Linked DNA regions of Homo sapiens. The protein of the gene in region 3 interacts with the protein of the main gene of each other region in a pairwise test. Each region holds a gene or a part of one and is shown on either strand. Other genes may lie near its edges. The genes, in order: MMD, CXCR2, ATP13A1 and MANBAL.

Region 1 (7,043 bases), on a different chromosome or scaffold from region 3:
CAGGCAGGGTGTGGTAGCTCATGACTGTAATCCCAGCACTTTGGGAGGCTGAGGCAGGAGAATCGCTTGAGCCCTGGAGTTCCAGACCAGCCTGGGCAACACAGCAAGACTCTGTATCTACAAAAATTTAAAAAATTCGCCAGGCATGGTGGCAAACACCTGTAGTCCCAGCTATTTGGCAGGCTGAGGTGGGAAGACTGCTTGGGCCTGAAAGGTTGAGGCTACAGTGAGCCATGATTGTACCACTGAACTCCAACCTGGGAGGCAGAGTGAGACCCCATTTCAAAAAACAGCCAAGCATATACTCAGATTTTTCAGGGAGGTCCTCATTTTAAAATATCTGTCCTATTGCAATTGAAATCTCAATATTTCAGGACAGGATAATTGAACAAATCAAGTAATAGGTATTATAATGTACATAGCAACACACACATACAAAAAGTCAGTTGTTGAAGTTATATACCCTGATTTTCAGTTTGGATCTGTACATTCCACCAATTTGAGAGCTACTGCAGAATGTAAGAGTTTTGGGGTCACTTCATTTTTAACAGAGCCTTTTAAGTAAGCAAGAGCAAACCATTTCCAAGGCCCACCTATTCAAAAAATCTTGAGAATTTTAGAGAGATTTGCTTTCTGCATCATATTTCATAGTCCACATGGTCACAAACTTTAATGTCTAGTCATATGTGTATGACTATGACTAGTAAACATCTTACAATGACAGAAGCTCCCAGGAGAATAAACTACTTTATTAGATATTAGAGTAAGCATACTTGACAAAGAATACAAATGTTAGCAATTTGCTTATCTTTTTTCTCCCCAAACCTACATTTGTCACCTTGCAACAGACTATTAAATCCCCTAGATGAGACTGGCATGAGTTTTTCAGATGCTGAAGTTTTCGTTGGCCCAAGCAAAATTAGAACATTAAATACAATTGCATCTCCTCCGGGAAGCAATGGCCACTGTAGGGGTGAGAGTCTATGGCTCGCCTTCCTATTTCAGAGGATTTAAGTACATTTAAGTACAATAAAGTTTTTCATAAAACAAAATGTATTTCATTTAAAGGAATGCCCTTTATCTTGAGATCATGTCCTTACTACTTTTCATGTTAAAGTATCTTCTCTTCAATGAAATGATGACAATAGGGGTGTTTTGTCTGTGTTAGAAATATTACTGGTCCCTGAAATCCAAAAATTCAAGATACGGTTTAATAAGATTATATTTTCTGTTCTAAAAAAATTAATATGGGGGTTTTGTCAGGTCTCCCTTTACTTAAGTTTACACAAGTGTTCCTTAACCTGTGACACACTCAGAAGAGACAAGTTAAGGTTTATTCAGGTTCATCCGAGTAAATATTATTCCTAAAGGTAAGCTGTGTGTTTCAATATCTGAACCATTGTATTGTACCAACAGTGACTACCACAGTTAAACTAGCCTGTTCCAAACACTCATTGTTAAAGAAGCAAACTGGTCTTTTCTCTATTTCTTGTTTTCAGACTGTATCCCAGCCACTATTTTTCCCTCAATGTCACTAAATGCAAGGGAATAATGAAACCACAGGTAAAGTAAAAAATTTATAATGACATAAGAAATGCCATTAATGTCACATTAACAGGAAAACTGAAAATACATACATATTCACAAACACCCCCAACACAGAGACACACATATACACACACACATACACACAAACACACACACAAAGAAATGCACCGAAGTGTTAACAGTTTATTTCTGGTTAGTTTTGTTTTTCTTATATATTTTTCAGTATTTTTAAAGTTTCTTATAATAAGCATGTTTTGCTTTTACAAAGCAGAAAAAAATTAACAAAAAATTTAGGGATCACATCGGCTTTTTCTTCACCAATATGGAATAACATCTCCTCTGGGAAGCAATGGCCACTGTAGGAGTGGGAGGCTATGGCTCCCCTCCCCATTTCAGAGGATCACTTAATTTTAAAAAGCATCTTTTTCAACAAACTGTGAACTCTCTTTGCCAAATGAACACAGTTGATTGTCTTGAAAAGGCGATTCATTTCATTCTAGGGGTGACAGTCTTCATAAATAGGTGTCTTTGGTTTTTCTATAACTAGGGTACATACTATTATTATTCCTTTAAAGAATATCTTGTTGGAGAAAGCGAATCCAGGACAGAGCTGACTGTAGGTTAGAACACACAAAGCATTCTACATGCTTACATAGTTTCTGGTGACACGACCCAGAACTGATTTCCTGGTAGATAAGGTCACAGATGGGTAAATCCAACTAATTGTGCTGAGGTTACTAGAGATAACTACCCCTTCCTCCCACCAAAGCCCCGTGGAAAGGATGGCAATGGTGGAAAACTTGTACTCACTGCGTGTGTGTAACAGTTAGCAGCATGTTCATAGCAAGTTGGCTTGTAGCGGCCATTGGCTGGAGCTCGATGGTTCATGAACCTGTAAAAACAAAAAGAACACATGTAAGAAAAACTCAAAGTGTGTGAAGAACAATGAGGAAACCCACCAGTGGGTATGTGGTCTATTCTACGCAAAGAAGTGACTGGTGGAAATACCCAGTTGCGGTAATAAAGCCAAAGCCACTAAAGAGGAGTAAACTGAGCCAATAGCAATGATCCTTAAGCAAATACCCTAGTTTATTAGATTAAGCCTTCTTTCAGTTTATTCAAAAGAAAAACCTTCCATAACCAAAAGCAAACTTCTACAACCAAAAGCAAAGAGAAACCATATCCACCCCTTCAACTGGAACCCTCCTCCTCCATTCACACACACACACACACACACACACACACACACACACACACACGGTACAACTAGAAAAAAAAAACGAATTTTTCTAAATTTTATTGTCATTTAGTGAAAAGGGATACACTACATTTGAAAAACAAAGTTTCTATTTTCTCTCTTAAAATTTATAAAGCTTTATATAGGCACATCTTTAAACCCTACATCCCATGATTAACAGGCCTGTCCCACTAGTTTCCCTATATTGTATTACCAGACAGCTTAAATAAATGACACCTGGCTACCTCTAGGCAACTTAAAACCGGAGGTATGTTTTCACCTTTGTTCTTCCTGAAATCAAAAAGTCTGCTTCAAAAACCAAACACATGACTACTACCTGATTCTTTTGGCTATAAAATTCATATATACACACAAATGTGTGTACGTATCTAAATATCAAAATCTGTTACATATATAGACATATGCCCATATTCCGCACTTCCCTTTAGGCTAACTTTGTGACCATCAGTAGTACAGAGAAAAGCATGAATACCACAGAACCTAAAGAGAGGATAGCATTCTTCCATTTCAGTATGCTGAGTGAGGATGCCCTCCCCACCAAAAACCCAACCCATACCCACAACAGGTTTCATGAGGGACTCTGGATTAGTCTAATTAATCCTTTTTTTCTCAGGAGAGAAAAAAGCAGCTGTCTGAATAAAAGAAGAAAGAGGTAGATGCACAGAAACAGACGGACGTAAAAAAAAAAAAAAATTTCAACAGCATTCAGGTTGCAGAGGTCCACTGCACTCCTGTGCTTAAGAGTCTGTAAGACGTCAACAGGCTTTGCACAATAAATAATCCTTTTGCTCAAGCTAGTTTAAAGAAGTGTGAATGGGGGTTGGGGGTTGGTATTTTGTGCCACTAATGAGTTCTAACTACTCATTACCTTATTCATACACAAAATAAAAAATGGTACAGGGCTGAACCAAATGGTAGAACCAAGTTGCCAAAAATTGGCTAAAACGCATGACCAAGCCATTTTAGAGAGTGCCAAGTTTATTAATAAAAGACCAGCCAATACTCTTTCCCTGAGTTAGGAAGAGCCTGTTATCGTTAGATCAAATAAATAAAAATAAAGTGGCAGCCACTATTAACACAATACAGATAGTTCAGGTGGAAAATCCACTGGGGAATGAATTTGGGACAGTGAAGATATTTCACTTGGCCCACTGATGGGTTAAGATATTTAACTAGTGTACAAAATATGTACTTACTGAGTATAATCTACCAGATGGTTTGAAAACCAACTGTTAAAGAGAAATATACAGTTAGTAGCTTCAAAATTTATCCAAGCTATTCTCAAATATAGTTAACTATTATTAAGCATCATCTTTTCTCCCCTGATAATATTTTAAATAATTTTACTAATTTCCTAAGAGACAAGAGTGTTGCTATACAGCTCTTATTAGCAAAAAAGAAAATAATTACACTCTTGGGAAGAATGCTTTAAAAGTGTCCCAAGAATTGGAGGATATACCACATCATTGTCCTGAGACATAACAACAGAGCTATAAGTAGCATACCCTATTAGGAATTTTCAAGGCTAAAGAGCAAGGCCCCAAGATGGCTGTAGTTAGATGAAATTGAATGTGCTCTGTGTAGGGTGCAGTAAGTAGGATTTGTCTACCCACCACCAGGCTGCAGACTAAAATAGCAATTTATATCTCTGGCAGCCCAATCTAAAAATAGTCAAGCCATTACCCAGCAACAGGGATAGACTTTCACATTTTCTCCTAAAAACAAATAAACTGGATGGCCATGTTTGTGACAGCTTAGTCCCTGATCACCTGGAATAATTCACATTAAAAAATAAAAGTAGAAAGTTATACAGAAAAATATCCCACCCATGGTGACTTAAGGCACTCTATCCTGATGCACAGGGTAAGACACGGGCAATAGGGAAAGATAAGGGTAACTATCCTGGAAGCAATTCTCTAAATCTGGGGCTCAGTAGGATAGACAGCATAATTGTTCTGCTGGGAAAGTACAATACAATTTTCCCATTTCTCTCTAACCTGCCAGGGTGCAATCAAGCCTCCTCCACAGCCTCCTGAAGAAATCACTCCTAAAACCTAAATGGAAAAGCAGATGTAAAATGTAAATCAACTCCCACACTCTGGCCTTCATCTCTTCCCCGAAAAAAGAATGGGAAAGGTTCAAGTGCTGGTTATGGAAAACAGCATCCATTTATGGAAGACATCTCTATTTAAAGCGGAGTGGCCCTAATGGTTACTCAATGCTTGAGTAACCAACAAGCTCTAGAGGGTTTGAAGGAAGGTGATTCAGTCCTGGGAGTGGGAGCTGCACTTAATAAAGCTACTAGTTAGGCAGAGTTTTTTTACTCATTCCTTCACTTTCTCTTTCAAAACTCTCCTGCCTTCCCCCTTGCCCAACGTTCTTATCACCTCCTCCTTCCCCCATACCCCTCTCCCATGCCATGACAGAATTTCAAAACCATGGAGGGAAAGAACAGATCAGAGACCTGGGAACACTCCTTAGCACACTAACACACTTTAAATTCAACCTAAAGCACTGTGCCCACTGAGTAGATCTGCAACCCACCAGCAGATCTCAGAGGCTGATCTCAGTAGATCAAATCCCACAAGTGTTCCTCATTCTCCGAGTGCAAGTACCATCAACACTACCTTCAAAATATATTTCAAATAAGTCCACCTCATCACTTGAGGTCAGGAGTTCAAGACCAGCCTGGCCAACATAGAGAAACTCCATCTCTACAAAAATACAAAAATTAGCCTGGTGTGGTGGTGTGCACCTGTAATCCCAGCTCCGCGTCTCCTACCTTAAATAAAGACCTAACATCTCAGGTCTGTACAAATACAAAGTCTCTTAACTAGTCTTCCTGCTTGACCCAGTACAGACTCTCTTCTTTACATAGCAGCTACAGTTTTCCATTAGAAACAGATGAGGGGCTGGGCATGGTGGCTCACACCTGTAATCCCAGCACTTTTGGGGAGCTGAGGCGGGAGGTTGCTTGAGCCCAAGAGTTTAAGACCAGCCTAGGCGGTATAGTGAGATCCCATCTCTACACACAAAAAAAAATGTAAAAATTAGCCAGGTGTGGTAGTGTATGCCTGTAGCCCCAGCTACTTCTGACTGAGGTAGAAGGACTGCTTGAGCCTCGGAGGTCAAGGCTGCAACAGTGAGTTGTGATGGCACCACTGCACTCCAGTCTGGGTGACAGAACAAGACCCTGTCTCAAAAACAAACAACAACAAAAAACCCAGATCACATCACACACCCCAATCCCAGCTTAAAGTCTGCCTCTGGCTTCCCAAAGTGCTTACGATAGCACTGTAACACAGTGTTCAGAGGCCCACAAGCCCTGAGTGGTCTGGGCCTCACTACCCCTCCAGTCTCAGGGTGGCATCTTTCTCTCTCTCCATCCTCTGGCTATACCACCTCCTTTCTGCTCCTTAAACACATCAAGGTTGTGTCTGCCTCTGGGCATGTGTACTTGCTGTTTACTTCTGTCTAGGATATTCTCCAGAATGCTCAGCTCTCTTCTCATCCTTTCAGCTCAGCTCAGATGTCACCTCCTCAAGAGAGGTTTTCCAGACTATCCTAACTGAAGTATCATTTCAACCCTCCCCATCCAACCAGAGCCCTATGTCACAATTGGTAAGACTTTGATTTGTTTTAGCTTATTTTTTATTTCATCTTTTCCCACTGTAGTGTGAATTCCATGAAGGCTGTCTTGTTCACCTTTCCATTACCAAACTGAAGTACAATGCCCAGCTTATTGCTAGAGCTTAATAATTGTTGAATGAATAGAAAGACATTCCAGCTACTGCTGAACTATTTTGTCTTAACAAAGATATCCCATAGTCAATTAGTTTTACTGTGGACACAGCAGGTTCTGTAAGTAAGAGAAACAGGCAGCCTTGGAACCAAGAGAACCCCGAATCTCACACACACACAAAAACACTTAAAATCCAAGACAACGGATATTCCAAGGGCCCCTTCAACATCATTTATGTTGCAACGTATAAGTGGACCCCTCTTACTATTAGCTCCCCTTTATGACTGAGCATATTTGTTCAGGAAAAGTGTCTACTGTCAATAGTGCCAATCTTGACTTAATTATTAAATAAAGGAAGATGGCATATATAAGGAGACTACCCCATGCCTATGATTTAGTGCTTTAAGAACATGGGAAAAAAGACAATAGGTAGCCCTGTAAGACTTCTAATACTGTAGATTAAAATGCTTTCCCACATATCCAGTTTTGAAGCTA
Region 2 (7,497 bases), on a different chromosome or scaffold from region 3:
TTTGCTGTATCTCAGAGCCGCTGGCTCCTTCAGCTGCCTTGTCTGAGTCTCCTGGCATTCCAGCTGCCTCAGGCTTCCCCATCATACCATTGGCAGTACTATAGCCTTCAATGTCTTTCACATGTCAAAGGGAGCAGTGCATTAAAATGACAGAGATGGACTAAAGCTTCTGGTGAGTCTGGTGGCGTTCCTCCCTGGACCTGATGCCTCTACTTCTTGGCCCCACTCCTGCCTCTTGTCTTTCCCCTCACTCCCCAACCATCTGCTCTGACCACAAGTCCATCTCTGGGTATTGATATTCTTTCTTGTTTCGCACACTTGGCATTGGGTCTGAGGACACCAACTCTGCAGCAGCTTACCACCCTTGGAGCCAAGACCCTCTAATTTGGAAAGAAAGCCTTTTGGTAAAAGGGAAGATTCCACCAAAGTCCAAATGCATTTTTAAAAACAATGTTAAGTGACCCTAAGAATGTATTTTATCAATTTGCTATTGATTACAAATGAATGAATTAATCCAGGCAGAGCCATGAACACTAATTCTGCTGTCTCACAAGTGCCCACCCCAGTGAACAACACCTCAATCCCCTCCATTATTCCTTACCCTATCTCTTGCTCCATGCATCCCAGGGCCCAGAGGGGACTCAATCCCTGTGGCAGACGCACTTAAATTGCCTGCCTACCCCAAAGAAAGAATCTTTGAGTCCAACTGTTCAGCAAATGTTTCTTAGTCTTTGTCACCTCTCTTTCCCAAGCTGGGGAAGAATGCAATGCCACCTGGCCAGTTGATGCTAAAACCAGATAGAGGCTTATTACATATGGAGAGAGGCAGATGACACCAGGGCTAGCTGAGCAATTCTGGGCAAGTGACTTTTCCTTTCTGAGTCTCAGTTTACTCATCTGTAAAATGGGGCCAATACAGAATCCAACTCATGGGGTTGTGGTGAGGATGAAATGAGGGATTGCTTGTAAATCACGTAAAACATACATAAAGTACAATGTTAACCTTTATTGTTGTGATCATTATTACTGGAATAGTTTATTCACTGATAACATGCTGCCTCTCTCACTACATCCCCAGTCAAGGGAAAGCAGTCGGCAGTGGGTCTGCTTTCAAGGCTGACTTTGATGACATCTAATTTACTTTGACCTGGATATTAATTGTCATATTAGCTGTAATGTTGAGTGTCTACCAGGTTCTAGCTTCTGGGCAAAGTGCTTTCCAGAATTTGTATCAATTAATCCTCAGGATAACCTCACGAAGCAGGCACTTTCTGGAAGAGGAAATGAAGACTCTGAGAGGTTAAGCAACATACCTAGAGTGACACAGCTGAACTAGGTTTTCAGTTTAAAAAACTTCTAAAAATCTGCTCTCAAATCCTATCTCCTGTTCACTGTAATAAGGAGCAGGATCCCAGCCTAAAGTTTCTGAGCTCCATTAGGTACCTCCCTGTGTCCCAGAAAGTCAGATACAAAGGATGTAGAGAGGGGAGCCCAGATTTGACATTTCCCAGTCAGCCTCCTTCTTCATGCTCCTTAGGTCAATTTCATTTCCATGGAGATCACTGCGGTTATATGCAGGGTGGAGTGAATTAAAAAACTGGCTTCTGGTGCGGTGGCTCATGCCTGTAATCCCAGCACTTTGGGAGGCTGAGGTGAGTGGATCACTCGAGGCCAGGAGTTACAGAACAGCCTGGCCAACATGGTGAAACCCCGCCTCTATTAAAAATGCAAAAATTAGCCAGGCGTGGCAGCGCACGCCTGTAATCCCAGCTACTCCAGAGGCTGAGGCATAAGAATTGCTTGAACTCGGGAGGCAGAAGTTGCAGTGAGCCGAGATTGTGCCATTGCATTCCAGCCTGGGCGACAGAGCAAAACCCTGTCTCAAACAAAAACAAAACAAAAACCTGGCTTCTAATCCTGCTTGGAGAAGTCATTCTTTCTGGGCCTTGTTGTGTGCCTTTGGAAAACGGGAGCTTCTTCTAATTCTATTCTGTTCAGCATGCTAGCTACTAGCCATGTGTAGCTATTTAAATTAAAATTAATTAAAATAAAGGCCAGGCAAGGTGGCCCATGCCTGTAATCCCAGCACTTTGGGAGGCCGAGGTGGGCGGATCGCTTGAGCCCAGGAGTTTGAGATCAGCCTGGGCAACATGACGAAACCCTGTCTTTACAAAAACAAAAACAAAACAAACAAACAAACAAAACCCAAAAAATTAGCTGAGTGTAGCGGCACATGCCTGTAGCTGCAGCTACTTGGGAGGCTGAGGTGGGAGAATCACCTAGACCTGTAGGTTGAGGTTGCAATGAGCCAAGATCATGCCACAGCACTCCAGCCTGGGCATTGGAGTGAGAGCCTGTCTCAAAAAAGAAAAAATAAAATAAAATAAAATGAAATAAAAATTGAGATCCGCAGTCACACTAGTCACATTTCAAGTGCTCCGTGGCCACGTGTGACTAGTGGCTACCATACTGGGCAGGGCAGGTCTAGGACATTTCTATTATTGCAGAAAATTCTTTTGTGCAACACTGTCTAGGTGAAGACTTAGTTGTCTTTAGCTCTAAGCTTCTACACTTCATCACCCCAGTTCTCAGGGGCCTCAGAGGAGGCTGAAGTTTCCAGATCTCTTCCATTAGAAATATGTTGCCAGCATCTCAGACTGAACAAGTCACCTACCTGCTGTTATTGGAGTGGCCACCGATGTCTTCACTGTGCCTCAAGGTTGGGTGGTAGTCAGAGCTGTTAGACAGGAAAAAAAAGATGAAACAACCTTGACGATGAAACTTCTGACCTGGGTTGCAAGGGGGAAATCCAGGATGCCCTCCTGGGGAGGTATTCCCACAGAGGAACAATGAGGTCTGTCCTGGGACTTTGGCCCAGGACAGGTGCCACTTAGTGATTCTGGGATGAGTGCTGGGGATTTTCACATCTTCCTGTCTGATGGCTTCTGGAGGAGCCTACCAGTCTGAAGGTGGAGATTTGTCTATCCACCTTCTGTCTCTGAATGTTTTGAACCTGCACTTCCTTTTTTAACAAGGAAGATGCAGGCATCCCAGCCCCCGCCAACGGACTTGTCTGAACTCGCACGCAGTTTCTTCCTTCTTTCCGGGGTCAGAGTGAGAAGCGTCCCTCCTTCTGTTTCTGTTGAATCCCCGCACCTGACTGTGGGACCCACTGCCTCTCTGGTCCTTGAGGATCCTGCTTTCTCTCCCCTCTGTCCTGGCTCTTTCCCTTCTACCACATCTTACTTATGGCTTTATCATGCTCCCTCTGTCCTAGCACCCTTCAGCCACCACAGCTGCTCTCTCCACTTCCTCACCTCCCCTCTGCTGCTCAACAAAGACACTGCAACTGGCTTCCTTCCTACTGCTCCACTGAAATAACTTTCGCCAAGGTTCCCAATGACCTCTGGGTTACTAAACCCAGCAAATCCATTAAAAAAAAAAACAAAAACAAATTGCTTTCTTTCCCCCCAAGACAACAGATTGGAGGCAGCATTAGCATGCCTCTCCCATCTGGAAGGACAGAATAGCGTGTAGAGATTCACACTATAATTTTTTTTTCTCCAGGAACGAATGCAGGAACTGAACAGGAAAGCTGAAAGAATCCACAGAACTTTTGAAAGAAGTGGCAGGCTGCAGCCTACTCTGTGAGACAGGCAAAAACTCACCTCTAGGCAGAATAGCACTGTACCCAGGAAGGAGAAAACGGCTGCATATTCTCAGCTATCACCACTGCTTACAACACCCTGGCTAACCAGAAGTCCTGCGTCTGTCCACGTGATAAGTTCACTATAATTATAACCAGCATTTGAGAAAGTCAATACTCTAAGTCTATCTACAACCAAGGAATCTTGCAGAGTTTGCATCACTCCCCTCCCACTTCTGTCAGAGATGGTGCTGGTATTCACTGCTGGGAGTCTTGAAGACAGGTAACACCACTGGATCCCTTGCAGACATTCCCTAGCACCAGCCCAGAGTCTGGTAGGCCCACTGGGTGGCTAGACCCAGAAGAGCACTGTAGTCTGGCTTCCAGGAAGTCCCATTCCTAGAGGAAGGGGAAGAACATCACATCAAGGGAATACCCTGTGGAACAAAAGAATCTGAATGGCAGGGCTTGAGTCCCAGATCTTTTCACTGGTGGGAAGTTTCCTATTGCAGAGACAATTGCTGTGCTGGGCAGAGTGGGGGAAAGTTTGCACCTCTACCCAATAGGCAGGCAGCCTCTGGTATTGTGAAGGGTCTTAGAGAAGGGATCCTTGTTCCCCCTGGTACGCCACTGCAGACAGAGCTGGGGCTTCTCCCAAAGGAACGCAGCATTGATGCACCTATAGACAGCCTTCCTGGAACAAATCAGGGTGATTGCATCCCCACGGGAGGAGCACTCCCCAGATTCAGGTTTGCATGACAGGCAGTCACAATTCCTCTCTACTTGGAACATCAACATTTCTACAGATGAAAATAACTGCCTGTCTGATCTGAATAGCTGGAACACTGGGAAAGGAGTGAAGCTGGGAGGTGGATAGCTTTCCAGCTGGCCTAGTGGGGGACCTGAGGTAGCTCCTACCCTTCACCCTGACAAAACCTCAGCACATCTAATTGAGAGCTCTCCCAGGCACTCTCATCAAGGCTGGGATCTCTGCCCACCTGCTTTAGCTACAACCGGTGCCTACCCACCTACTTTAGCTACATCTGGTGCCTACCCAGGGATACTTCCCCTACTGGTCCAAAGCCTGAATCAACTCAGTAAGTAAAATACTGGGGAAAAATTAAATAAATAAATAAAGAGTACCCCACGAGAGAATGAGGTAAGCTTAAAGAGATTCCTGCCATTCCAACCCTGTAGGAGACAGTAAACCTTCCCACACACCAAGTACGTAACTGCTACAACCAGGATCTGGGAAAGCCAGCACACAAGGACTGTCTCTAACTAACGAACTCATACAGAGTCTTCACTCCTAAAATCCAAAAGTCTTCACTCCTAAAAACCAAGGATCAAATTAGGCTAAAATAAACTATAAATATTAAAGTCAGATCCTTAAGAGGGAAGAAAAAGAAATAAAAAAAAAACATAGTTGCTGGGCGTGGTGGCTCACGCCTGTAATCCCAGCATTTTGGGAAGCTGAGGCTGGCAGATCACCTAAGGTCAGGAGTTCAAGACCAGATTGACCAACATGGAGAAATCCTGTCTCTACTAAAAATACAAAATTAGCCGGGTGTGCTGGTACATGCCTGTAATCCCAGCTACTCGGGAGGCTGAGACAGGAGAATCACTCGAATCGGGGAGGTGGAGGTCACAGTGAGCCGAGATCAGACATTGCACTCCAGCCTGGGTAACAAGAGCGAAACTCCATCTCAAAAAAAAAAAAAAAGTCAAATCAAAAATAAATTCAAGAATAACTTGAAGAAATAGTCTACCCAAATGAGAAGGAACCAGAAAAGTAATTCTGGCAATATGACAAAACAGGGTTCTGTAACACCCCCAAAAGATCACACTAACTTTCCAGCAATAAATCCAAACCAAGATGAAATTTTTGTAATACCAGACAAAGAATTCAGAAGGTTGATTATTATTATTATTATTATTGTTATTATTATTATTAATAATATTTTGGGACAGATTTTCACTCTTGTTGCTCAGGCTAGAGTGCAATGGTGTGATCTCGGCTCACTGCAACTTCTGCCTCCCGGGCCCAAGTGATTCTCCTGCCTCAGCCTCCTGAATAGCTGGGATTACAGGCATGTGACACCATGCCCAACTAATTTTTGTATTTTTAGTAGAGATGGGGTTTCACCATGTTGACCAGGCTGGTCTCGAACTCCTGGCCTGAAATGATCTGCCTGCCTCGGCCTCCCACAATGCTGGGATTGCAGATGTGAACCACTGTGCCCGGCCCAGAAGGTTGATCATTAATTACTTAAGGAGATACCAGAGAAAAGTAAAAACCAACATAAAGAAATTTAAAAAAACCAATTCAGGATATGAATGAAAAAATTTCTGGAGGGTATATATCGTAAAGAAAAACTAATCAAAACTTCTGGAAATGAAAGCATACTTAGGGAATACAAAATGTGGTGGAAAGTTTCAACAATAGACTAGAACAATTAGAAGAAAAAATTTCAGAGCTTAAAGACAAGGCATTTGAATTAACCCAATCAGACAAAGATAAAAAAAAAAGACCAAAAGAAATGAACAAAGTCCCCAAGAAATATAAAATTATGTAAAACAGCCAAACTTGAGAATAATTGGTATTCCTGAGGGAGAAGATAAGTCTAAAAGTTTGAAAAACGTGTTTGAGGGAATAATTGAGGAAAGCTTCCCTGACCTTGCTAGAGATCTAGATACCCAAATATAAGAAGCTCAAAGAACTTCTGGGAAATTCATTACAAAAAGATTATCACCTAGCCACATAGTCATTAGGTTATCTGAAGTCAACAAGAAGGAAAGAATTTTAAGAACTGTGTGACAAAAACATCAGGTAACCTATAAAGGAAAACCTGTCAGACTAACAGCAGATTTCTCACAGAAACCTTGCAAGCCAGAAGGGATTGGGGTCCTATCTTTACCTTCCTTAAACAAAATAATTGTCAGCCAAGAATTTTGTATCCAGCAAAACTAAGCTTCATAAATGAAGGAGAGATAAAGTCTTTTTTCAGACAAACAAATGCTGAGAGAAATTGCCACTACTAAACCAGCATTATCAGAAATGCTAAAAAGAGTTTTAAATATTTAAACAAAAGCTTTATGTGCACCAAATTAGAACTTCCTTAAAGCATAAATCTCACAGGGCCTATAAAACAATAACACAATGAAAAAAACAAAGTATCTAGGTAACAACTAATATGATGAATAGAACACTAACTCACATTGAGAGGTGAAGCCAGCTGGATTTTTGGGTCGGGTGGGGACTTGGAGAACTTTTCTGTCTAACTAAAGGATTGTAAACACAGCAATCAGTGCTCTGTGTCTAGCTAAAGGTTTGTAAATGCACCAATCAGCACTCTGTAAAAATGGACCAACCAGCACTCTGTAAAATGGACCAATCAGCAGGACATGGGCAGGGCCAAATAAGGAAATAAAAACTGGCCACCTGAGCCAGCAGCGGCAACCTGCTCGGGTCCCTTTCCATGCTGTGGAAGCTTTGTTTTCTCACTCTTCACAATAAATCTTGCTGCTGCTCACTCTTTGGGTCTGCACTACCTTTATGAGCTGTAACACTCACTGTGAAGGTCTGCGGCTTCACTCCTGAAGTCAGTGAGACCACGAACCTGCCAGGAGTAACAAACAACTCTGTATGCACCACCTTTAAGAGCTGTAACACTCACTGTGAAGGCCTGCAGCTTCACTCCTGAAGTCAGTAAGACCATAAACCCACCGGAAGGAAGAAACTCTGGACACATCTGAACATCTGAAGGAACAAACTCTGGACACACCATCTTTAAGAACTGTAACACTCACTGCAAGGGTCCGTGGCTTCATTCTTGAAGTCAGCGAGACCA
Region 3 (7,255 bases):
CTGTAGTCCCAGCTACTTGGGAGGCTGAGGCAGGAGAATGGCGTGCACCCAGGAGGCAGAGCTTGCAGTGAGCCGAGATTGCACCACTGCACTCCAGCCTGGGCGACAGAGCAGGACTCTGTCTCAAAATAAAAAGGCTGGGTGCAGTGGCTCACACCTGTAATCCCAGCACTTTGGGAGGCTGAGGCAGGGGGGATCACGAGGTCAGGAGTTTGAGACCAGCCTGGCCAATATGGTGAAACCCCGTCTCTACTAAAAATATAAAAATTAGCTGGGCATAGTGGCAGGCACCTGTAGTCTCAGCTACTCGGGAGGCTGAGGCAGAACAATCACTTGAACCTGGGAGGCGGAGGTTGCAGTGAGCCGAGATTGTGCCACTGCACTCCAGCCTGGGCAACAGAGCCAGACTCCATCTCAAAAACAAACAAACAAACAAACAAAAAAACCCCAAAAAACAAAACAAAAACAAAAACAACAACAAAAAAAGCTGGGAAGCTGGGTGCACAGACAGCACCTAATGCCCAGGGCTCTGCTCTGCTGAAGGTGACATGAACTCAAATAGGAAGAACGCTGCCAGGCACCCACCCAGTACGTCCTCAATTCACGTGAGCCAAGCCCCCGCCCCATCACAGGCCCCCGGCCTCCTGCTCAGCTCTGCCTCTTCCACCAACCCTGCTCACTACACTCCACAGCTCCACACGCACATGGGGCTCGATCGTGCCTCAGCAAAGGGCCTTGGCATGTGCTGTTTTCTCTGCCCGGAATACACAGTCACACAGCTCCCTTGCTGCCTCAGGCTTTTGCTGAAACATCACCTTCTCAGGAGCCCCTCCCTGGCTGCCCCATCTAAAGTTCCCGGCAATGTCCCATCCTGTCCTGATGTTAGATGTCATCTCTGTTTGGCATCAACTGCTGACTATGAGTTCTCCCTCCCAGTAACACCACAAAGGCAGGGGGATTTGCCTGTTTTGTTCACTGCTGTTTCCCCAGCACCTAAGACACAGAAATGTTGAATGGAACTCGTTCAGTGCTCCCTGGACCCCGTGAACCGCCATCCATTCCTCTGCTGCTCTGCTAGACCGAGCTGCATGGAGACGAGCTGCATGGAGATGGGGGGAGCACAATGATGACCCGCAGAAACAAAGCGCCACCGCACGGGTGGTTCATGGGCCTCCAAAGCAGGCAGCAAATAACAACAATCACATAACTACAAACGTGACGTCACGGAAGAAAGGTACAAGAGGCTATACGCTGTGATGGCCCCAGGGCGGGCACTCTGCAGATATCATCTCCGCTTCTCAAGATGGCACCCAGTAGTTGTTAGTTACGGTTCTCAGTTTACAGAAGGGGGAAACTGAAACTCAGAGAGCAGAAGCGGCCCTTTCTGAGATCTGAATCAAACCCAGATCCACCTCTCCTGGCTGATGGCTGTTCAGCTCCTCCCACTTCTCCATCCCTGGAGAGGAAGTTAAGAGCTAAGCTGCTTAGCTGCAGGTCAAAAGGCAGCTGAAGTTTGAGCGGTGCCACAGTCCCCTTAACCCCTCCTTTATTTTGTCCCTCATTGGTGTCTTTCATTGTACTACCTCAAAGCTACCACGTTGAGCTCCTCCCCTGGGATAGATAAGTCTTTTTGAAGGACAGAACAGGTTGTCTCTCAGGAGAGGAGAATGAGGATTCTACCCACATTCAGAGCCAGCCAGGGTGGGGGGCTTCTGTCTTTCTGTAGCCCTTGATGCTGTTCCCTTTTCCTCTTCTTGAGGCAAACACACTCCTGGAATCAGAGGGGAAGCTTCCTGATATACCTCAGTGTCCATGGCTCCAAACCTGCTGGTGTCACCTGAGGCAGGCCCAGAGAGAGACGACACAGTCACTGCTTCAGGCCCAGGGAAGCTCACAGTCACCAACTCCTCCGACGACACTTGGTCACTCAGAACTCTAAACTGTGGGTCAGGAGCGCGACCTTGCTTGCTGTTGTATCCCCGACAGAACTCAGTATCACCACCCTCATTTTGCGGAAAGACATCATGTAAATGACTCGCTCATAAACACCTCTGCCTCTCTTCAACACTGTAATTAACTGCATTTCATGCTCCTTTCCATCACAGTATGGAAGACCACTAAGCACTGGACAGCAAGACTTGGTTCAGTCTAAGAACCAACTAAGCTTCATAGATGGGGGAAACCTATCCCAGTGATCTCGCCTTACACTTTGAAAACCAAGGTAGGAGACAGATGAGATGGAAGGTAGGGCCGTTTCCAGAACAAGAGTAGTCGCTAATATGGGAACTAGTATAAACAACTCCTACCTGACCTGGGCGACGTATGCTGGGCCCTGCGCTAAGCCTTTTACAAGTATTACATCACTGAATCTAAATGACCATAACAGGGAGGACTTCAGAAAAAGGAAATAACCCGCACCAGGCATGCACAGCAAGTCAGCAGTGGGGTCATGATTAAGCCTGCGCCAAAGTGTAGAGGGTGCCCCTGGGAATCCAGGCCAGGCAGATGAGTGGCCCAGGTCGCGATGGTGACCGACAGGAAGGCCGCAGCTGGGACCCACGGCGAGGCTCGACCGTGCTGGGGGTCGGGCTCGCGTGTACACACTTACCGGGGTGCAGGTGAGCGCGCAATGCGCGTGCACAGACCAATGCCCCGAGAGGACAGTGAGCGCGTGCGCGAGGCAGATGGTGGCAAGCACGAGCAGCGCAGCTTCGGGGATCTGCACCCAACTGCTGCCCCAGCCCCAGCAGCCAGCGGCTGCGGCACCCAACCAGGCCGGGTAAAGCAGCCCGGCGAATGGCAGCACCGTGAGGCGCCGCAACAGCGCCAACCGCCGGTACGGCCACACGGCAGCCACCAGCTCGTCACCGTTCGCTATGAGCGCCGGCCCGGCGGCAAGGAGCGCGCGCGGCTGCGGCCCGGGCTTGGGCTGCCCGTCAGGCCGGACCCCGCAAGGCCGGGCCCCGCAGGGCACCGCGTTGCCCACCGCCGCCGCTGCCGCCATCTTTCCTAGCGCCGCGCTCACTTCCGGGCAGAGGAACGCCTCACTTCCGAAGTTTTACTTCCGGTAAGCCCTGAGCGCCGCCATGGCAGCCTGGACTAGGAAGAGCCAGGGCAACAGAACAGGCTGGCCCCGGCAGGGACTACTTCGGGTGCCGCCATGACAGGCTGTGGCCGGAAGAAGAGGCTGGGCGTCGCCATGACAGAGAGGGACTGGAAGACCTAACGGTGCCTGCCTCCGCTGCCACGCCGGACTGAGACCGGAAAAGACAAGGCCGGCAAGGCGGGCTTGGGCGCCACCATGACAACCTGAACCAAAAAAAGCGAGCCCTCCTCCTTGACTACACCAGCACCACCTGTCACCAGGGGCGAAGCCTGGACCCTGCGGAGGCGGGGTCGGGAGCTTCGGAGTTCAGGAGGCGGGGCCCGGTGCGGGGGGCGGGGCTTGTGAGGGGCGGGGTCGGGGACCGCCCCGGAACACAACCACACCGGACAAGAGCCTTAATGTGATAGATAAGAATTACAAATACTAGCCGGGCGCGGTGGCTCACGCCTGTAATCCCAACACTTTGGGAGGCGAGGCGGGTGGATCACCTGAGATCAGGAGTTCAAGACCCAACATGGTGAAACCACGTCTCTACTAAAAATACAAAAATTAGCCGGGCGTGGTGGCACATGCCTGTAATCCCAGCTACTCGGGAGGATGAGGCAGGAGAATTGCTTGAGCCCGGGAGACGGAGGTTGCAGTGAGCCAAGATTGCTCCACTGCACTTCAGCCTGGCCAACAGAGCAAGACTGTCTCAAAAAAAAAAAAAAGAAAAATGAATTACAAAAACCACTTTAGGCCGGGCGCGGTGGCTCACGCCTGTAATCCCAGCACTTTGGGAGGCCGAGGTCAGGAGATCGAGACCATCCTGGCTAACGCGGTGAAACCCCGTCTCCACTAAAAATACAAAAAAAAAAAAAAAATTCTCCGGGCGTGGTGGCGGGCGCCTGTAGTCCCAGCTACTCCGGAGCCTGAGGCAGAATGGCGCGAACTGGAGAGGCAGAGCTTGCAGTGAGCGGAGATTGTGCCACTGCCCTCCAGCCTGGGCGACAGAGCGAGACTCTGTCTCCAAAAAAAAAAAAAAAAAAAAAAAGAAATTACCACTTTAACATAAAAAATGAAAAACTGGTGTTTACTTGAAATTATATACTTCTAGGCCGGGCGCGGTGGCTCACCCCTGTAATTCCAGCACTTTGGGAGGCCGAGGCGGGCGGATCACGAGTTCAGGAGATCGAGACCGTCCTGGCTAACACAGTGAAACCCCGTCTCTACTAAAAATACAAAAAATTAGCCGGGCGTGGTTGCAGGCGCCTGTAGTCCCAGCTACTCGGGAGGCTGAGGCAGGAGAATGGCCTGAACCTGGGAGGCGGAGCTTGCAGTGAGCCGAGATCGCGCCACTGCACTCCAGCCTGGGCGACAGAGCGAGACTCTGTCTGAAAAAAAAAAAAAAAAGAAATTATATAGTTCTATATTATTAACTGTACTGTTGCATAAATGCTATTTGAACAAAACCACAATAGGACTACTTAACAGTACCAATTAGTAGGATTAAACAGTATGTGTGACAAACAGTAACTATTTTATGTTTCTTTTTGTCCTCTGATACAGCAAATTTATTTAAACTTAAAATTTATTGGATATTTAAATTTTGTAGCTTATATTGTTGCATATTCTTTTTTTAATTTTTCGAGATGAAGTCTCACTCTGTCGCCCAGGCTGGAGTGCAGTGGCGCGATGTCCGCTCACTGCAAACTCCACTTTCCGAGTTCAATCGATTCTCCCATTTCAGCCTCCCAAGTAACTGGGATTACAGGCGCATGCCACCGCTCCGGCTAATTTTTGTACTTTTTTTTTTAGACGGAGTCTCACTCTGTTGCCCAGGCTGGAGTGCGGTGGTGCGATCTCAGCTCACTGCAACCTACGCCTCCTGGGTTCCAGCGGTTCTCCTGCCTCAGCCTCCCGGGTAGCTGGGACTACAGGCGCGTGCCACCATGCCTGGCTAATTTTTTGTATTTTCAGTAGAGATGGGGTTTCACTATGTTGGCCAGGTTGGTCTCGAACTCCTGACCTTGTGATCCGCCCACTTTGGTCTCCCAAAGTGCTAGGATTACAGGTGTGAGCCAGCGCTCCCAGTCTAATGTTTTGTGTTTTTAGTAGAGACGGGTTTCGCCATGTTGGCCAGTCTGGTCTCAAACTCATGGCCTCTAATGATCTGGCCGCCTCAGTCTCCCAAAGTGCTAGGATTACAGGTGTGAGCCACGGTGCCCAGTCCTAGTCTTGTTTTGTTTTCTTGGGACGGAGTCTCACTCTTGCCCAAGCTGGAGTGCAGTGTTGCAATCTAGGCTCACTGCAACCTCTGCCTCTTGGGTTCAAATGATTCTCCTGCCTCAGCCTCCTTAGTAGCTGGAATTACAGGCATGAACCACCATGCCTGCTAATTTTTGTATTTTTAGGAGAGACAGGGTTTCACCATGTTGGCCAGGCTGGTCTGGAACTCCTGTCCTGGCCTCAAGAGATCTGCCTGCCTCGACTTCCCAAAGTGCTACAGGTGTGACCCGCTGCGGCCACCCACTGCATATTCTGGTTTTTTTTTTTTTTTTTTTTTTTGAGACGGAGTCTCACTCTGTTGTCAGGCTGGAGGCTGGAGTGCAGTGGCGTGATCTCAGCTCACTGCAACCTCTGCCCTCGGAGTTCAAGCGATTCTCCTGCCTCAGCCTCCCGAGTAGCTGGGATTACAGGCGCCTGCCACTGCACCCAGCTAATTTTTTGTATTTTTAGTAGAGACGGGGTTTCACCTTCTTGGCCAGGCTGAGTCTTGAACTCCTGACCTCGTAATCCACCCGCCTCGGACTCCCAAAGTGCTGGGATTACAGGCGTGAGCCACCGGGCCCGGCTCTGGTTTTTTTTTTTTTTTTTTTTTTTTTTTTTTTTTTTTTTTTTTTGAGATGGAGTCATGCTCTGTCGCCCAGGCGCAATGCTGTGATCTCGGCTCACTGCAACCTCCTCCTCCTGGGTTCAAGCAGTTCTCCTGCCTCAGCCTTCTTAGTAGCTAGGATTACAGGCATGCGCCACCACACCTGGCTAATTTTTGTAATTTTAGTAGAGACGGTGTTTCACCATGTTGGGCAGGCTGGTCTCCTACTCCTGACCTCATGATCCGCCTGCCTGGGCCTCCCAGAGTGCTGGGATTACAGGCTGAGCCACCGTGCCCGGCTGCATATTATTAAGATACATGACTTCGTAAAAGGAGAAAGGAAATGTAATAGGACTTAATAATCACATAGTATCAAATAAGATAATCTTCAGTAAAAATAGGAATGACATGTTTCTGTCCCATGATACAGTTCGATATACTTACTTTTTCAGTTTTTTCTCCAATATTAATTCTTTCCCATACAAGGTCCAAGCTTCTGCTCTTGGAGTCTGGGACTGGACCCCTTTCTGGTAGCAATACCTTTATAGAATGTTTACTCCAGGCCGGGCACGGTGGCTCATGCCTGTAATCCCAGCACTTTGGGAGGCCAAGGCGGGCAGATCACGAGTTCAGGAGATCGAGACCATCCTGGCTAACACGGTGAAACCCCGTCTCTACTAAAAATACAAAAAAAAAAAAAAAAAAAAAAAATTGGCCGGGCATGGTGGCACATGCCTGTAGTTCCAGCTACTCGGACTCGGGAGGCTGAGGCAAGAGAATCTCTTGAACCTGGGAGGCAGAGGTTGCAATGAGCTGAGATCGTGCCACTGCACTCCAGCCTGGGCGACAGAGCCAGACTCCGTCTCAAAAAAAAAGAAAAAAAAAGTGGTTTACTCCAGTTTTTCCCTGCATTTAATAATTTTGTTCCCTTTAAGGCATGTTTTTATTTTCTTGGCTGAAAAGGAGTAGCCTGAGAAGAAGTAACGTGTAGGAAGCCTTGGCCATGGGACCAATAGCCTCATAAATTCCTGATCTCTGGAGGACATCAGGGCCTCCTACCTGTTCCATTGTGACCTGGGAGTCTCTCCAGCTCCAAGGTGGAGGGATGGCTTCACTGAACACGGAGTCTGGAATTCCGTGCACACTCATGTGACCGGTGTTCCGGAAAAAGAAGCAGGAGGCGGCTGGGCGCGGTGGCTCACGCCTGTAATCCCAGCACTTTGAGAGGCCGAGGCCGGCGGATCACGAGATCAGGAGTTCGAGACCAGCCTGGCCAACATGGTGAAACCCCATTT
Region 4 (4,149 bases), on a different chromosome or scaffold from region 3:
CCCATCTCCAAAACAGAGATGATAGTCGCTCATCTCTTAAGATCCTCATCAGTCCTGGCATTTGGGAAAGCTGTCTGGCAGGCTGTAAATGAGCTGGGCAAATCCGAGTTACCAAGAGGTCAGGGCTTTTCCTCAGCAGCTGATTCAGGGCAAGTGACTAGACCTGGCCAATGCCACGTAAGGCCTTTTACTGTATTGCACTTGGTTTTTCTCAAGCCACTTTGAAGACAAGCAGCATCTTCCTCAGAAGGAACCTGGGGAATGAGTGGGGCCTGGACCCAGTGGAAACTCTAACACACCCACGGCCATTCACAAGTGTTTCCAGTGACTAAGGGCCACACGAAGCACTTAGCCGGATCCTTCCTGAAAACTTCTTCCAGAATGGCTCAGCCTGCAGAACTGCTCTTACCGAAGCCATCCTATTCTGGCCATCCTCACCCCCACTGTCCCACTTCTCTGGGGGTCAAGCCTTTCCCTCATCCCCGGGGCAGGGCCCTAGGCTTCCCCTCTCCCTCAGCAAAAGACAACACAGGCAGGTTCTGAAGCATGCATGTCAGTTTATTCACCATACTTCCCCCAGGAACCCTCTCACTGGTCAGGGAATGAAAGAATTGAAGGGATGGGGGATGTACAGGTAGAAGTAAAAGGCACACCTTGAACGTGCTATGATGGGTTGAAAAGAGGTTGGTCTGAAATTGACGAGCCTCCCATTTCAGAGGCTCAGGAAGTTTGTGCCCAGGAAATATGCACGCCTTCAGCCAAATCCCCTGCACCTGATGGAGCAGAAGCAGGCACTGCCTACCCTGGCCTGGCTGTCTGCTGGCTCTCACGCCAGGCATTTTCTGGGCCTGGCTGTCACAGCTAGTGGGATCACTAACGCTGCATGTCCATGGCATCTTGGCCTAAACAAACAGGTGAGGCCTGGCTCTGTCTACACAGCAGCAACAAAGGTGACTGATCAGGAGGAGATCTGTAGTGCACAAATAATGGGAGAGGGTGTGCTTGTCAGCATTAGACAATGACTCCCAAATGTAGTGTAAACCCACAAGGAGGGGGCAACTCAAGGAGGGACACATGACTAAGCAAGAAAATGTGACTCTGTGAGCTGACCCGGCTTCTGAACAAACCTAATACAGTCTATGCTCACAGTGTGTTTCAGCCCCCTTGACTCTAAACCGTCACAGAAGCAGAAGGAAGAGGAAGTGGTGGATTGCCCAGCTGGAGCCTGGGGACTGTTACGACTGTCTAGATCTCTGCGGTCATAGGGCGTCACAGCCTCCTCAGACCCTGAGCCTGGAATGCGGGGGAACACAATGTAGATTCCCAGGAGGGCTGTCCCCAAGACCCTCTCCCTGCCCGCCCAGCTCCTCAGGCCTCCTCTTCTACCGCTTCTTCTTAGTCTCTTTCTTGGGCCTCTTGTTCACAGAAGGAACAGCAGCCTTGGGCTTCCTCGTCACCTCAGCACTTCTGGGCTCAGACGGTTCAGCCTCCTGTGAGGTGATAAAAAGGAGAGTCCTGCTTAGATGGATCAAGCCTGACGCCAGCAAAAGGAGATCACATCTGAAAGCAAAGAAGCATGCCACAGAAACACAAGAGATGGAAACTGTCATTCCCGGGACCTACCACCCACACGGATGTGGGACTGCCCCGGAGCATCGTGGCTCTCAGTGAAGAATAAAGGAAGCCCCACGGGGAGGGAGCAGCTTGTGGGGTCTCAGACGCCCAGGTAGAACCTGGGATCCTTCCCTTTCCAGCCAACTGACCTTGTGTGAAACTCACTTCCCCTTTCTGTGTCTTGGTTTACTCACCTGTGAAATGGAAATAGCCACACCCGCCTTACAGGGCTGATGTGAGGAGGCAAAACTACGTGGAAAGCACCCAGGAAGTGCCAGCTGCACCCAGTGACTGGCCGATCACCTCGTGCCAGGGACTGGACAAAATGTGGGCGAGGAGCTGGCTATGGGGCAGACCCACTGTGGCTTGCCCTCCTCTGGCTGCCATTCTTGTCCTCCCATTCAACCCACAGAATGCCAGGACTGGGAGGGGTGCAGAGGGCCAGCCGGCAGGTGGGCAGTCCCACACTGTGTTCTGCGGAGCCTGTCAGAGGTGCCTCTGTGGGGGAGGGCAGAGGCAGCCTCGGGGCAGAATTCCAGACTCCCTGGGCGACAGGAGCAGCTCTGATTTTCAATCTATTTCATACACTGTGATTTGTCCCTTGTAAGATTGAAATGAAACAAAGTTCTGCTGCTAAGGAACGAAAGGTTGAAACCCACAGATCTAGCCCTGGCGTTCATTGTGCTGATAAGGAAGGGAGACTCCAGGGAAGGGACACAGCTTGGCCCAGCCACTCAGGCTCATGTCAGAGAAGTATCTGGAATAGGCTCAGTGTGCTCCTATCTAGTGTCCTCTCCTCCTCTGGGTGATAACTTGCAGTGTGCCGTGGCCAGAAAGGACGGACGTCAGAGAGGCCGGGCTAGCCCAGAGAACGCCAACCACAGCCCACAGGCCTCGTCCAGGCCACAGACTTCATCTGGCCGGCAGTGTTTATTTAAAAATTTAAGCCAATTGGGAGATTTCCCATGAAATCTGGATTCCTAGATTCTCTTGAAACTAACCATCCGGTGACAATGGCCCTGCATTCCCTCATGGCAGTGAGGGGCTGAGGAGGCGCTGCCCCTTTTCAGGTGCCGACCGTGGCCCCCACACCCTGCCGCCCCCAGCACTATGATTGGGAAATGTTTCTCAGTGCCCATGTTCTTTATTGAGAAATGGGAAAATAAGAAGCAGACTAAGACTCCTGGGAGGGGGGACACTTCCAGATGAGAAAAATACCCCTCTGTGTTTCATTTCCCAACCCCGGCTTCCAGCTCACTTTACTCCCTGACCTTCCCTGCTTGCCCCATTGGCCCGTGGCCCAAGCCTCAGCCCACCCTACAGAAGAGGAGGGCCCATGCAGGGAAGGGCAGTCCCTGCCTCGGATCTGATCCAGAGGCCTGTCAGCTCCCTCCTATCGGCCAACATCGTCTCCCATCAGCCAGGCGAGATAACCAGATATGAAGAGCCAGCCAGGTCCCAGGCCCCCAAGGAGTGATTGTCCCAAGATAACTGGAGGGCTTCCCCTCCCCAGCCAGGCCTCTCACTGCAGTGCTGGATTCCTTCGGCCTGCTGAGCCTCCTCCCACCAAAAATCAAAATGATCTGAAGGTCCCCCTACTCTGTTTATGTAACTTGGCCAAAACAAAACAAAACAAAATTTGCAAGGCCTGCCTGGATCTCTAGGAAGGAGTCTGCCTTCTGAGCTCAAGGCTGGGGGCTCCTCCAGTTTCAGTGGGGCTCAGTTCAGAGACCACAGGGACAGTGAGACCCAGTTGCCGCCCCAGTGCCTCCCTCACTCCACAGGCCCTGTCTCTAGAGCCTCAACCATTCTGGCACCTCCCAGACCTCTCCCTTGATCCAGCTGTCTGCCAGACAATCAGGACTGGCATCTCCAAGGCACCTCCAACTTAACTGTCCCAGACCCAGAAGGCCCGGCCCTCCTCCCACTGGTGGAGCAACCAGAGACCCGGTAACCTCACCCTCTCTCTGCTCCCCACTGTCCAGTGGGTCACCATGTCCTGCTGACATGACCCCCTCTACCTCTTGATTCTGCTACTCTCTCCAGCATCCAATTCCCCCTTCAGTTCCGCCCACAGCTAAGCAAAGTGCCTGCTGTCTCTGTCCATTCCTCATGCACCCACGAAAGGAACTATTCTAAAGTGCAGGTCTGACCACTGCACCTTCCACCTTAAAGCTTCCAGTGGCTGTCTCTGGAATGGCATCTAAGAAAGGCCACCTCTCCAGCCTCACATGGGCTCCTCTTCATCCCTCACACTGAGTCAGGCCCCAGAGCTTCCGCTGGTCACCTTCATCAACAGGAATACCTGTTTCCTTGGCCACCCGGCAAACTGCTCCCATGGTTTGGCCCTGTCCATGAATACACTCCTACTCACTGTCTAGCCTTCCTTCCCTGCTCCTCCTTCCAGCTGGGGGCAGCCCCTCCTCCCTCCTCGGGCCCCTAGGCACCCAGGAACCTTATAATGCCACCATTCTTTTTAAGACAAGGTCTCACTCTTTTGCCCAGGCTGGAGTGCAGTGGCTCGATATTAGCTCA

Evidence for each region.
Region 1: the proteins of ATP13A1 (region 3) and MMD interact in binary tests that used the Homo sapiens proteins (3 or more experiments, as listed by UniProt).
Region 2: the proteins of ATP13A1 (region 3) and CXCR2 interact in binary tests that used the Homo sapiens proteins (3 or more experiments, as listed by UniProt).
Region 4: the proteins of ATP13A1 (region 3) and MANBAL interact in binary tests that used the Homo sapiens proteins (3 or more experiments, as listed by UniProt).

The regions. Positions count from the first base shown.
Region 1 is NC_000017.11:55,411,793-55,418,835, forward strand, and holds part of MMD (monocyte to macrophage differentiation factor), read right to left. Parts: intron 2,441-7,043; coding exon 2,359-2,440; intron 1-2,358. UniProt on the Homo sapiens protein: Involved in the dynamics of lysosomal membranes associated with microglial activation following brain lesion.
Region 2 is NC_000002.12:218,121,531-218,129,027, reverse strand, and holds the start of CXCR2 (C-X-C chemokine receptor type 2), read right to left. Parts: upstream 3,001-7,497; 5' UTR 2,675-3,000; intron 1-2,674. UniProt on the Homo sapiens protein: Receptor for interleukin-8 which is a powerful neutrophil chemotactic factor. Binding of IL-8 to the receptor causes activation of neutrophils. This response is mediated via a G-protein that activates a phosphatidylinositol-calcium second messenger system.
Region 3 is NC_000019.10:19,660,663-19,667,917, forward strand, and holds the start of ATP13A1 (endoplasmic reticulum transmembrane helix translocase), read right to left. Parts: upstream 3,015-7,255; 5' UTR 3,005-3,014; coding exon 2,609-3,004; intron 1-2,608. UniProt on the Homo sapiens protein: Endoplasmic reticulum translocase required to remove mitochondrial transmembrane proteins mistargeted to the endoplasmic reticulum.
Region 4 is NC_000020.11:37,313,649-37,317,797, reverse strand, and holds the end of MANBAL (protein MANBAL), read right to left. Parts: intron 1,491-4,149; coding exon 1,383-1,490; 3' UTR 538-1,382; downstream 1-537.